3 linked regions of the Homo sapiens genome follow. The protein of the gene in region 2 interacts with the protein of the main gene of each other region in a biochemical or structural test. Each region holds a gene or a part of one and is shown on either strand. Other genes may lie near its edges. The genes, in order: DLG5, TRPM1 and PALS2.

Region 1 (3,730 bases), on a different chromosome or scaffold from region 2:
TGAGCACTGAGCCTCCTCCAGGCCCTCTTTCCTTCCTCTGTCCAGGCTAACAGGGGCCCCATCAAGGCAGGGGTAGGCTGTGGAGGGAGGCCCCATGTGCTCCCCACATAAAGCACAGCAACAGCCTGTAGGCTGTCGGGGGAGCTCTGGGCAGATGGGGGAAGGAGGGCCCCCCAGCACACACACTTGGAACAGATGCACCAGCAGCCCCTAGCGCAGGTCCCAGAAGCTCAGCAGCACAGAAAGGCAAAATGGAGCAGGGCCTTGGTGAGCCCTTGGCCCAACCAGCACAGGAGCCGAAGCTCAGCGAAGGCAACGGCTCCTGAGTCATGAGCCAGCTCGGGGCTGAGTGGGACTGTGCCCAGGCCACTGGCTCCCCTGCTCCTAAGCAGCACGTAGCGAGGAAAGGGGGCTGGGGCAGGAGAGGGGAGCTGTGCAGACCAAGCTGGCCATGCCCAAAAAACAGTGGCAGCACCCAAATGGCGGAGGGGCGCGAGGAAGGGGCTGCGCTTGGCTGACACCACCTCTGAGTAGGGGACAGGGCCGACAGGGAAGGGTCATTTTCTACACGTACTGCCTATTTCAAGACCCATAGGCCCATCTCTCATTCCTCAACCCCCCACCCCAACACACCCTGCTCCCTACTTGGGCTCCCAGCCCCACCTGTGACAAGGCCCCAGCGGAGCCCAGGGGGCCAGTTACCTACTTGATGTGCTTGGCGCTCTTGTAGTGGATGAAGATGACAATGGGGTAGATGTGCATGTGGTGGAGCCGCTCAATAGCGTGCGGAGCAATGTCCAGGAGGCAGTGTCGGTTCTGGGGTGGGGGGTGCAGAGTGAGCCCTGGCGGGCAGTGAGGGGCAGCCAGCCCCCTGTCCTGCCACCAGCAGGACCCACCTCACCTCACAGGGCTCTACCCACAAACAAGGCAGTAAAGCCACACAGTACACCGTGGGGAAACCATACCCACGAAACTCCCAACAAACCCCACTTGCTGTGAGGAAGGCCAAGGCTGGGAGCCAGGGCTTAGGGGGCTAGGGGTGCTGGCCAGCCCAACTCCAAACTTCCTTTCCCGCCTTTGCCCAGATACAGGGACCTTCTGAAAGCCCTGCCCCACCCTGGCCTCTGAAGCCTTATTTTTGCCAGACTGAGCGAATGAAGAGCCAGAGTCTGGTGAGCCTTTGTGTGGCTGAGACTGAAATATGTCTGTCATGTCTGTCGTCCCAGGCATCCAGGTGGAGTGCAGGCCCGTGCACTCCCGACCCCCAGATGCTCCACTGGGGCATTCCCCCAAGTAGAGTTTGCCCACTTTCAGCAGTGAGAAGCCAACACCTTCATCTAACAGAGAAGGGAAGCAAAGCCCAGCGAGCGAGCTGAGCAGCCTGGAGAAATGGAGCCCAAGGAGCGGCTGTGTCCTTGGACTCCGAGTGTTTGCCCCACCAGCACTCCCCACAGACGTCCCCGCCCTCGTGCTGCCTAGGATGTTCGAAGGCACCGAGAGTCATAGCCCTTTTAGGGGCAGGGACCCTGAGGGAAGGCACGTTCCTGTCCCCAGAAGGTGCATGTGAAATTGTTCGGCACATGCATTTGGGGACCCCGTTCCGGAATGCCCTGCGAGAGGCCTTTCCGCAGAGCTCAATACTCTCATCAGAGATGAGACCCCCCGCACCTGCCAGAGAGGAAGATGGGGCGGCACATACACAGGGGAACTCCTCCATCCCCACCAAGGGATGTGCTTGCAGAAACACACAGCAGCCATGAGGGCAAGCCCAGGCACAGGTGAACTCAGACTAACACAACACGGTGGGCTCACTGAAGGTCTGAGCCGCTGGGGCAGAGGATCACGGACCAGGGGCCTAGACCTGTGCACAGGAGGTCTAATACTGGATGCCTAATCCTCAGACTGAAGCCCTGGGTACCTTTTCTGTGATCTCCTTTATTGACGCCACAGTGGTCACATCGAAATGGCCGCTTCTCCGCTTATAGTCGACAAACAGGCAATCTTTGACACCCCGCTCAATGGCCTGCTGGGAGGCCTTCATCACCTCTGCAATGCACAGACACAGGAATCAGGGAGCCCCAGGCCCTGCTGAGCCCCAGCAGAGGGAGCAGGGGAAGAACACTGCTCAGCAGCTGTCAGTAACCCAGTCCTGCCATGCATGAATCTGACCCATGTCAGCAGGCTTCTGGAACACTGTGAAATCTGCCCCCCGGTACTGCCACCCACTGTGCACAGCTGGGCAGGCAGGTGGACAGGGACATAGAGACAAAGAGCCCAGTAGGCACAGAGGGTGCCCCGTGCCCCTTACCAAGGGGACATCTGCAGAACTTGCCAGGAGCCTCATTCACCAGCATCTCCTTCACCACGTCCAGCAAAGGCCCCAGAATCAGGACAGGCCTCAGAGCGGTGCAGTCCACCTTCTGGACCCGCTGATAGGCCAGGCTCACCGAATCTGAGGGAGAGAGAGCAGCAGCGTCACGGACCCAGCTTGGAGTGGAGGACCTGAGTGGGGCTGGGGAACCCCGCTCCCTGACCTCGCCCACTCTGGTTTGCCTGGGACTCCCCCAGCTTCAGCACTGAAAATCTCGTGTCCCAGGCACAACCGGGCATCGTCACCCCTGGAGTCCAGCATGAGCACCCCCCATGCCCTCTGTGAACACCAGAGGCAGCTGGTCTCAACCACTCATCCCAGAGCTTCCTTCTGCTCTGATTTTTCCTCGTGGGTCGACGCCTGCTTCCCCTGCCCCATCTCCATTCTCCTCTGCTCTCTGGCAAGGCAGCCTCTGGGGTTTGGCAGGTAAAGCTCCCACTCCCCAGGAAGGTGTGGTCAGTGTAACCCAGACCTGCCCAGTGACAGGTGAGGCCTCCCCAATCTGCACGGCTAGAACAGGTGAGTGCTGTGAGCCAGCTCTGGCCATGCAGTTGAGGATAACCCTTAAGAAATGGCAGAGGCACAAGATGGAAGGGACCTGGGTCCTGGATGATCCTCAGAACGCAATGCCTCTCCCACATCAACCACAGCTCAGACTTGTACATGACAGAGAAATAAACTGCCCATTATGCTTAAGCCACTGTTATTTGGTTTCAGTTAAAGCAGTCAAACCAATATCCTAGTTGATACATGCAGTAAACCTCCCCTTGCACCAAATGAATAAAGTCCTTGCAGGGAGACACAGTCTAAAACCCAGCAAGATCTTCCTGGCGTCTCCCTGGTATAAGTCACTGTGCTGGAATCTCAGAAACATAATAAAGAATAGAACACAGAGTTCCTGCCATTAAAAAGCACACACTTTAACTAGAGTCACAACAGAGCAACACATGAACAGCAAGAGAGCACGCAAGAGCTGCCTGGCAATTCCAGGAGCGGCGGGCTTCAGTAGACACTGTGGCTGGATGACAGGGTGAAAAGACCACTTGGGCAGGCCCAGGAGGGAAGTGGGATGAGAGTCTCCAGAAAGAGCAGGGCAAGAGGATGAGTATGGAGATGATGGGGAGGGCAGAGCACAAGATGACTGCAGGCTTGGGAGGAAGGGTCCATGAGAGGCTTGGCCTGGAGGGATCTGTACGCATATGCAGAACAAGGAGTGACTGCAGAGCAGGCACAGGGACCAGGAGGCAGAAGGCTCAGGAGAACACAAGCACAGTGCCAGCTGCAGCAGCAGGCTCCATGAAGAGCAACCTGTGGGCAAACTCAGGGAGTAAGTAAAGTCTCTCCTCTCCTCTTGCCCTG
Region 2 (3,500 bases):
TGATGCCAATTTGATGTTCATCCCCATGTAGGCGATCTACTTTAGTTTCCTGAAAACCTTAAAGAGCTCTTTATTCTTGGAATTCTGAAAACTGTTTATTAATATCCTAAGTTATGTATAACATCAGCTTAGCATATTATATAGAATTAGACAGTTAAGCATAACATTCACATTTCTAAGAAACAAAGTGCCCTCTATTTGCCAGAACCATACTACACAGTGTAACTCGTATAGTCTTTTCTTTATCCTCATGGAGAGCTCTAAAATAGATATAATACTGCCATTAGATTGCTAGGTTATCTGCAGATTAGAATCTCTTCTCAAGATAACCTAGTAGTTAACAGCAGTAAACCCAAGAGCTAGGGTTTGATTGCAATATAATTTTTCCCCCACTATATCTTTTTCAAACCCTTTCGTAGCTTCCTATTTTCTTGTAATTTTCTCCCATGTCATGAAAACATCACTAGTTAAAATAATACACAATTTCAGAGTTATAAGGGAATCTAGAAACAGAGTTCCAGTCCCTCCTTTAATGGTGGGTAGACGACCCAACCAGGGTGCGTGTGCATACTGAGTTATGGGGGGCTCCATTAGGAGACTCTGACTGTGGCAGGGGTTTGTGCAGCCTGGTGGGCTGGTCAGGTGGGGCTCTGGAGTTAGAGCACCTGAGTGTAGGTTCTGATCCCATGCTGACCAGCTAAGATCCTAGGCATGTCACTTCATCTCAAAGCTTCAGATTCCTCATCTATAAGACAATGATTGTCATGGCGTCTCCCTCAGGGGGTTGCTAGAAGGAATAAATGAAATAAGCCACAGAAAGTGCTCAGTTCAGCCTGGCAGAGAGTCACTTGTCACTGTCACCCTGGCCCGCCTCGCAGCACGTTGCACGCACCTTCAGGCCGGGGTTCTTCCGCATCCGCAGTCTTCCCATCCACATATCGGTCAGCAGCATCTGGCTGCAGGTGTGAGCAATGAAGTCCCGGTGTTTGGCTGCCACGGCCAGTTTGAGGCAGGTCGAGTTGCTCCAGTTTTTCAGCTCGTAGGTCAGGAGTTTCATAGCGATCTGCTCGTCATGCTTATAGGACTGGTCTAATAACTCCAAAGCAAGCTGGCCGAAGTCTCTGGGGGGAAAGAGAAGGGACCAGGGTGAAGCCACAGTGGCCGCAAGCTGTTTCTTAGACAGGCATATCCACCAAGGACTTATGGAGCCACGGGACACAGTATCCTTCACTGGAGGGGCTCTGAGGTTCTCTGCAAGCAAGAAGCTCCAGGGATGTGTCCCCAAAGGGGGAAGGCCAGGGACAGTGGCTGGGAGCTCAGTCAGGAGGTGGGCTGACTGCTACTGCTGCAAATGGAGCTGTAGGTTGAGACCACATCTGCCCCTCAGACCCCAGGGACATAGAGACGAGAAGACAAAGTCCCTTCCCTCAAGTTGTGCACAGATCAGGGAGGCAGATAGAAAAGACAGCAAAAGTGACTTCAAATGCAGCACCTGTGGAGTTGGAGGCCACAGTAGCGGGGCTGCTGGTGGTGGTGGTGGCGGGAGGTGGACACTGAAAGGAGTCACAGGAGGGCTGGTGGGTGCCGGCTAGGTTCTTAGTTGATCTGGGTGCTGGTGGTGCCGGCATGTCCCACCTGTGGACTGTCACCAGCTGGACATTTCGGATGTATGCCTTTCTCTGCCCGTGTAACACTTCACCATCACAGTGATTACAGAGAAGCCAACATTCTCAGTGCTATGACAGGGATGAGGCATAGTTGTCATAGGGCCCAGGCCAGAGGGCGTCTAATGACTGATGGGGACAGTGATAGAAGTTGGGGGGCATGGAGAAGGTGGCACAAGCTGAATTTTGAGCATAAAGTTTACTGCCTTCCCCACATGATCCAGATTCAAATATTTGGCAATAACCATAAACGTTCCAAGTTCCTTCAACTTTTTTTTTTTTTGAGATGGAGTCTCACTCTATCACCCAGGCTGGAGTGCAGTGGGGCAATCTCGGCTCACTGCAAGCTCCACTTCCTGGGTCCACGCCTTTCTCCTGCCTCAGCCTCCCGAGTAGCTGGGACTACAGGCGCCCGCCACTACGCCGGGCTAAAATATATTTTAGTAGAGACGGGGTTTCACCATGTTAGCCAGGATGGTCTCGATCTCCTGACCTTGTGATCCGCCCACCTCGGCCTCCCAAAGTGCTGGGATTACAGGCATGAGCCACCGTGCCCGGCCAGGAGAACCAATTTTACCAGAGCCTCACCTGCTGGTTTGATCAGAGCCTGACTGACCCAGGGGAAGCACGCCCAACTCCAGCCCCCTCTAGCCATCCTGTCCCACCTAAGCATGGAGCAAAATCAGAAACACCTGTGAAGGTCACAGTCCAGGTCACAGTCCAGGGCACAGGCTCATTAATGTTGTATTCCTTGTTAGTGTGTGTTTCCCTATGGAAATTAATTTCACCATCTTTGCATTAAAATTGTGTTTCAAGGAAAGGAAAAAAATTGTGTTTCAATTTTGATGCAAAGAGAAGGCAGTACACAAAAACAACGACAGTCCAAAAACACCTCTGAGAGACAGAAAGAAAAATGCTGACATGACAGACGAAGTGATTTGTGAACAAGCTTTAACCACCATTGTCCTTAAGTGAGAAGTACATTGGCCACCCCTCCCTGCAGAGACAAGTACTCAGGATGGTCATCTCTCCTGGCCTTTAAATCCCCGCTAGACACTAACTTGGAATTGTTATCCAAGTCCTGGGAGATGTCATCCACCAGATCACTCTCGGAGGACTCGTGGGCCATGGCCTTGTAGAGCTTGCAGGCCACCAGGGCCTTGGCCATGCTCTCTTCCCCTCGCTGCCAGAGGAACACTGCCATTTTCTGGCGTTTCATCAGCACTGCCCACACCATCAGCTCGTGGAAGGGATACTGGAACCGACTCACGGCAGGGTCGTCCACATCAATGTCGATCTCTTCCTCCTTTTTCTTCTTTTTCTTTTTCTTCCCTTTAGCTGGAGGCTCATCATCCTGAGGGGAGAAACATGGATTTCATGGTTTTGCCATAAAAGTATGCAACAAAGAGTTCCAGAACTCCTGGAGAAAGGGAACCCTTTCTGTCAGAGGTAATAAAGAGACTTCTGAAGTACATCTTACATTTCCACTCCGCATATGAATTCTTTTGAAAAGATGCACACGTTTATTATGATAAGTAAACTATCTAAAACCAAATGAACTGAGAAGGCATACTGTTTGGATAACTTGCACCCCTGGGTCAGCAGTTTTACTTAGAAGCCTTTAACTGAGGCGACGCTGCAAAACTAAAACAAACAAGCAAAACCTCCCCCAAAACTAAACACAAATAACATCATGGAAGAGGGAAGGTCTACAGTTTATTTCCTCAGGGAGGTCTTCAAATGTAGCAAAAATAACACTCGTTTGCCAGACGTAGCTGAACCAGAAATTAACAGGAAACATGCAAAAGGGGCTAGAGAAAATGTTTTAGGTTTCCC
Region 3 (3,351 bases), on a different chromosome or scaffold from region 2:
GTCTTTTGCAGGAATATGGATGGAGATGGAGGCCATTATCCTTAACAAATTAACACAGGAACAGAAAACCAAATACTGCATGTTCTCACTTCTAAGTGGGAGCTAAATGATAGTATCTTATAAACACAAAGAAGGAAACAACAGACACTGGGGTCTACTGGAGTGGGGGGTGGGAGGAGGGGGAGGAGCAGAAGAGATAACTATTGGGTACCAGGTTCAGTATCTGGATGATGAAATAATATGTACAATAAACCCCTGTGACACGTGTTTACCTATGTAACAAAACCTTCACATGTGCCCCCAAACCTAAAAGTTAAAAAATGCAAACAGTTAAAAAAAATTATCAACGCTAATCAGATATCCTCCATTATTATCTCTAAACCTTAGTTCTACCTATAAATGAAACACTTTTTTCCAATAGTAAATATTTCTTTATATATACAAAAATATTTTACCAGGAGTATATAATCTCACAGATTAGACATTTCAATAATTTTTGTTTTGGACAGCACATGGAAATATGTGAAAAGATTTATAGGGACAGTTTCTGAAAAATCAATACTTAATTGTACCACAGGAAAATTTTATTTATACAACAGCAATAATGTTTCTTTTATACAGAAACTAATAATACAATTACCTGGAAAGCAGTAGCAATTAATTTTTCTTTTTAAACTTCTTAATCAGAAACTTTAAGCAGCTTGTTCAGCTTTGATTTTCAGATTGCTAACAAGCATTCTGCCCTCCATTTTTTTTTTTAAAGATTCTCTTCTACAGTTACTTCAAAAACTAGAGGTTTAAAAAAGCATGCGTCTTGTGTTCAAATAAAAGACTTACCAAAACGAACTGGCGTGGGGGGAAAAGGAAGAATAAAAAATTCCCACAGCAAGGTTTTCACATCAAATACTCACCATAGGCTCCAACAGAGCTCAACATAACATGGAGAAATTGCACTTGTTGCTGAATACTAGTGCTCATTCTTCTACAACAGAGTCCAACATATCACTTCTTTAAAAAAAAATCAGTGTTACTGAAGAGACAGGAGCCAGTCAGCAGTTCTTTTTAAAAGAGAATACAGAGACATAAGAAATATTTTTATTGTATTTCAAATACAGATGTAGCTGAGCTATGCCTGAAATCTGGTTCTACCTGAAAAGATGGAGGCATTTCTCATTTAGACCATGTTTACCAGGACAAGCTTTATGTCTTTAAAGCAATGTTACTTACACTACTGTCCACCTCTCCTATTTAAGAATAAGATGAAAACCACACATTTTAACTGGTAATGACTTCTGGTTTAATGTTGGTAATTTACAGCTGATGAGTTTTTACATCAGATGAGTATGCTTTTTTCCTGTTTTAGTTAATTAGGCTTCCTCCAAGCTCCTAGGCTACTTTGATAGGAGGAGAGCCAAATTTCATATATGACCTGTCATATTTATGTATGTTCCTTCCCCTGGCTTGCTGTTGGCTGAAGTACAATAAAGACATCTATTTCCAATTTTAAGACCTTTTTGGCTTCTGTGGTAGCAACACCACCTATTTCATAAGATTCAAAGACAGTTGCTTTACAAGCAGTAAATCACTCAATCTTCTGATTGGTGGCATTTACCTTAACTATAGATGTGTTCATTCCATTTACACTGGAGATTAGAAAACAGTAAGAGCCAGTAGGAGGGGAAAAAAAGGAAGAGAACTATCCCTTCTGATCGACTTTTGTATGTGGAGATAAGTCAAATTTATCACACCATTGCATTATCAGCCAATGACTGAGAAGCAATTACAAAGTAATAACTAAAGTGGATTAATATCTGGATTTTGAGGTTCACAAACTAAGACCTCACTGTGAATGTTTCTTTCTATAAAGAAATAGATGCCTTTTTAAATTAATGGTATGGGTAAAACAGTAGGGCTGCAGTGATTTCAGGTATGCAGTGATTTCAGGTATAAGGATAAAGTAGGACAGTTTTCGGGGGCAAAGATCAGAGTCTTCTGGTGTAACCGAGTACTGGATTGCTTGCTTACATTTTGTTTGATTTGTGAGTGGTCTGGTTGGCAGCAAGGATTTGCTAAGGGTTTGGATTTAGTATGGGATTATAAGATAAAAGGGACTTTCTGATTAGGACTAAGAGAGCAGAACAGACCTTCCACCAGCTGAAACTGTATCTTTGGGGCTATTTTAAAACTGGAAGAATTCCTGAAAAGTATTCACCATTCACTACATTACTTCAGAAACAGGTACACTTTAAAATAACTAAAAGAGAACAGATAAAGTAGCCTAATAAGGATTTTTCAGTTCACCATATCACAGCTACCACATCAGAGTTACAAATTACAAATCAGAATTTAAGGCGAAGACAAATATTAACTTAGCCTTACTTAACAAGTAGAATAGTAATGATAAAGGGAAATATAAATTTCATCGAAGATCACACAGTCAGAAGTCAGAATTAGGATCTTGGCCAGTACCCTGTCTTTACTTTTATCACTAGAGAATATTTTTTAAAAAGTACTGCAGTGTATTGCCAAAGTGGTGTGAACCATGCTTACTTTAGAAATGAGATATCATCATTCTTTCACTGTTTAGTATATTAAGGACTCATGTTCGAATCTCTGCATTTTTCAAAAACTATTCCAAGAACACAGAAGCTAGCATGATGAATTATGGGAAATATTTTAAAAAGAATATAAATTGCAAAACGTTAGAACAAAAATGCAATTTAAAAATAACCTTACCTTAAAAAAATTATAGAACTGTCATCTTCCTCAGGTATACAATATATGCTTGCATAAAAACTGACAAGATGCTCAATTATTAGTCAAATGTATTCTTAAATTTTGTGAGTATTCATTTGTACTATATACAATAATCCCATTATTTAAAAGAATGAATTTCTCCCAAAAATTCCAAATACATTACAGATGTTATTACATGAATTCTCACAGCAAACCTCTTGAAATAAGACAAGGGCAGGTATCATAATCTCAGCCTGAATCATATTAAAGATTCATTCAAAAGTTTAAATAAGAATTTCCAAAGGGGTTTCCATCCAGAACCCTGCCCTTTTTCCCTAAGAAAATTAAATTTATTATAATAATGACTACTTTCTGAGTTTCTCATATATTTTTCAGAAAGATTATCAGCTTCAAGGTGGAACCAGAGCGTTTTAAAACAATCTAAAAAAAGTTTCAGAATGTCAAAGAAATGGGAGTAATTAAAAATTTTAGAATGCTAGTTATAATTACATGAATGAATACATTCAGTTTTATATTCATACATTTTGGGAGAATTTTACATATTATACACATAGCTGTATATATATATATATATATATATATATATATATATAT

The links.
Region 1: the proteins of TRPM1 (region 2) and DLG5 interact in a test that uses a peptide from one of them, tested with the Homo sapiens proteins (one large-scale study listed by IntAct).
Region 3: the proteins of TRPM1 (region 2) and PALS2 interact in a test that uses a peptide from one of them, tested with the Homo sapiens proteins (one large-scale study listed by IntAct).

The regions. Positions count from the first base shown.
Region 1 is NC_000010.11:77,794,143-77,797,872, forward strand, and holds part of DLG5 (disks large homolog 5), read right to left. Parts: intron 2,453-3,730; coding exon 2,309-2,452; intron 2,047-2,308; coding exon 1,919-2,046; intron 817-1,918; coding exon 707-816; intron 1-706. UniProt on the Homo sapiens protein: Acts as a regulator of the Hippo signaling pathway.
Region 2 is NC_000015.10:31,039,226-31,042,725, forward strand, and holds part of TRPM1 (transient receptor potential cation channel subfamily M member 1), read right to left. Parts: intron 3,019-3,500; coding exon 2,726-3,018; intron 1,122-2,725; coding exon 893-1,121; intron 1-892.
Region 3 is NC_000007.14:24,691,409-24,694,759, reverse strand, and holds the end of PALS2 (protein PALS2), read right to left. Parts: 3' UTR 567-3,351; downstream 1-566.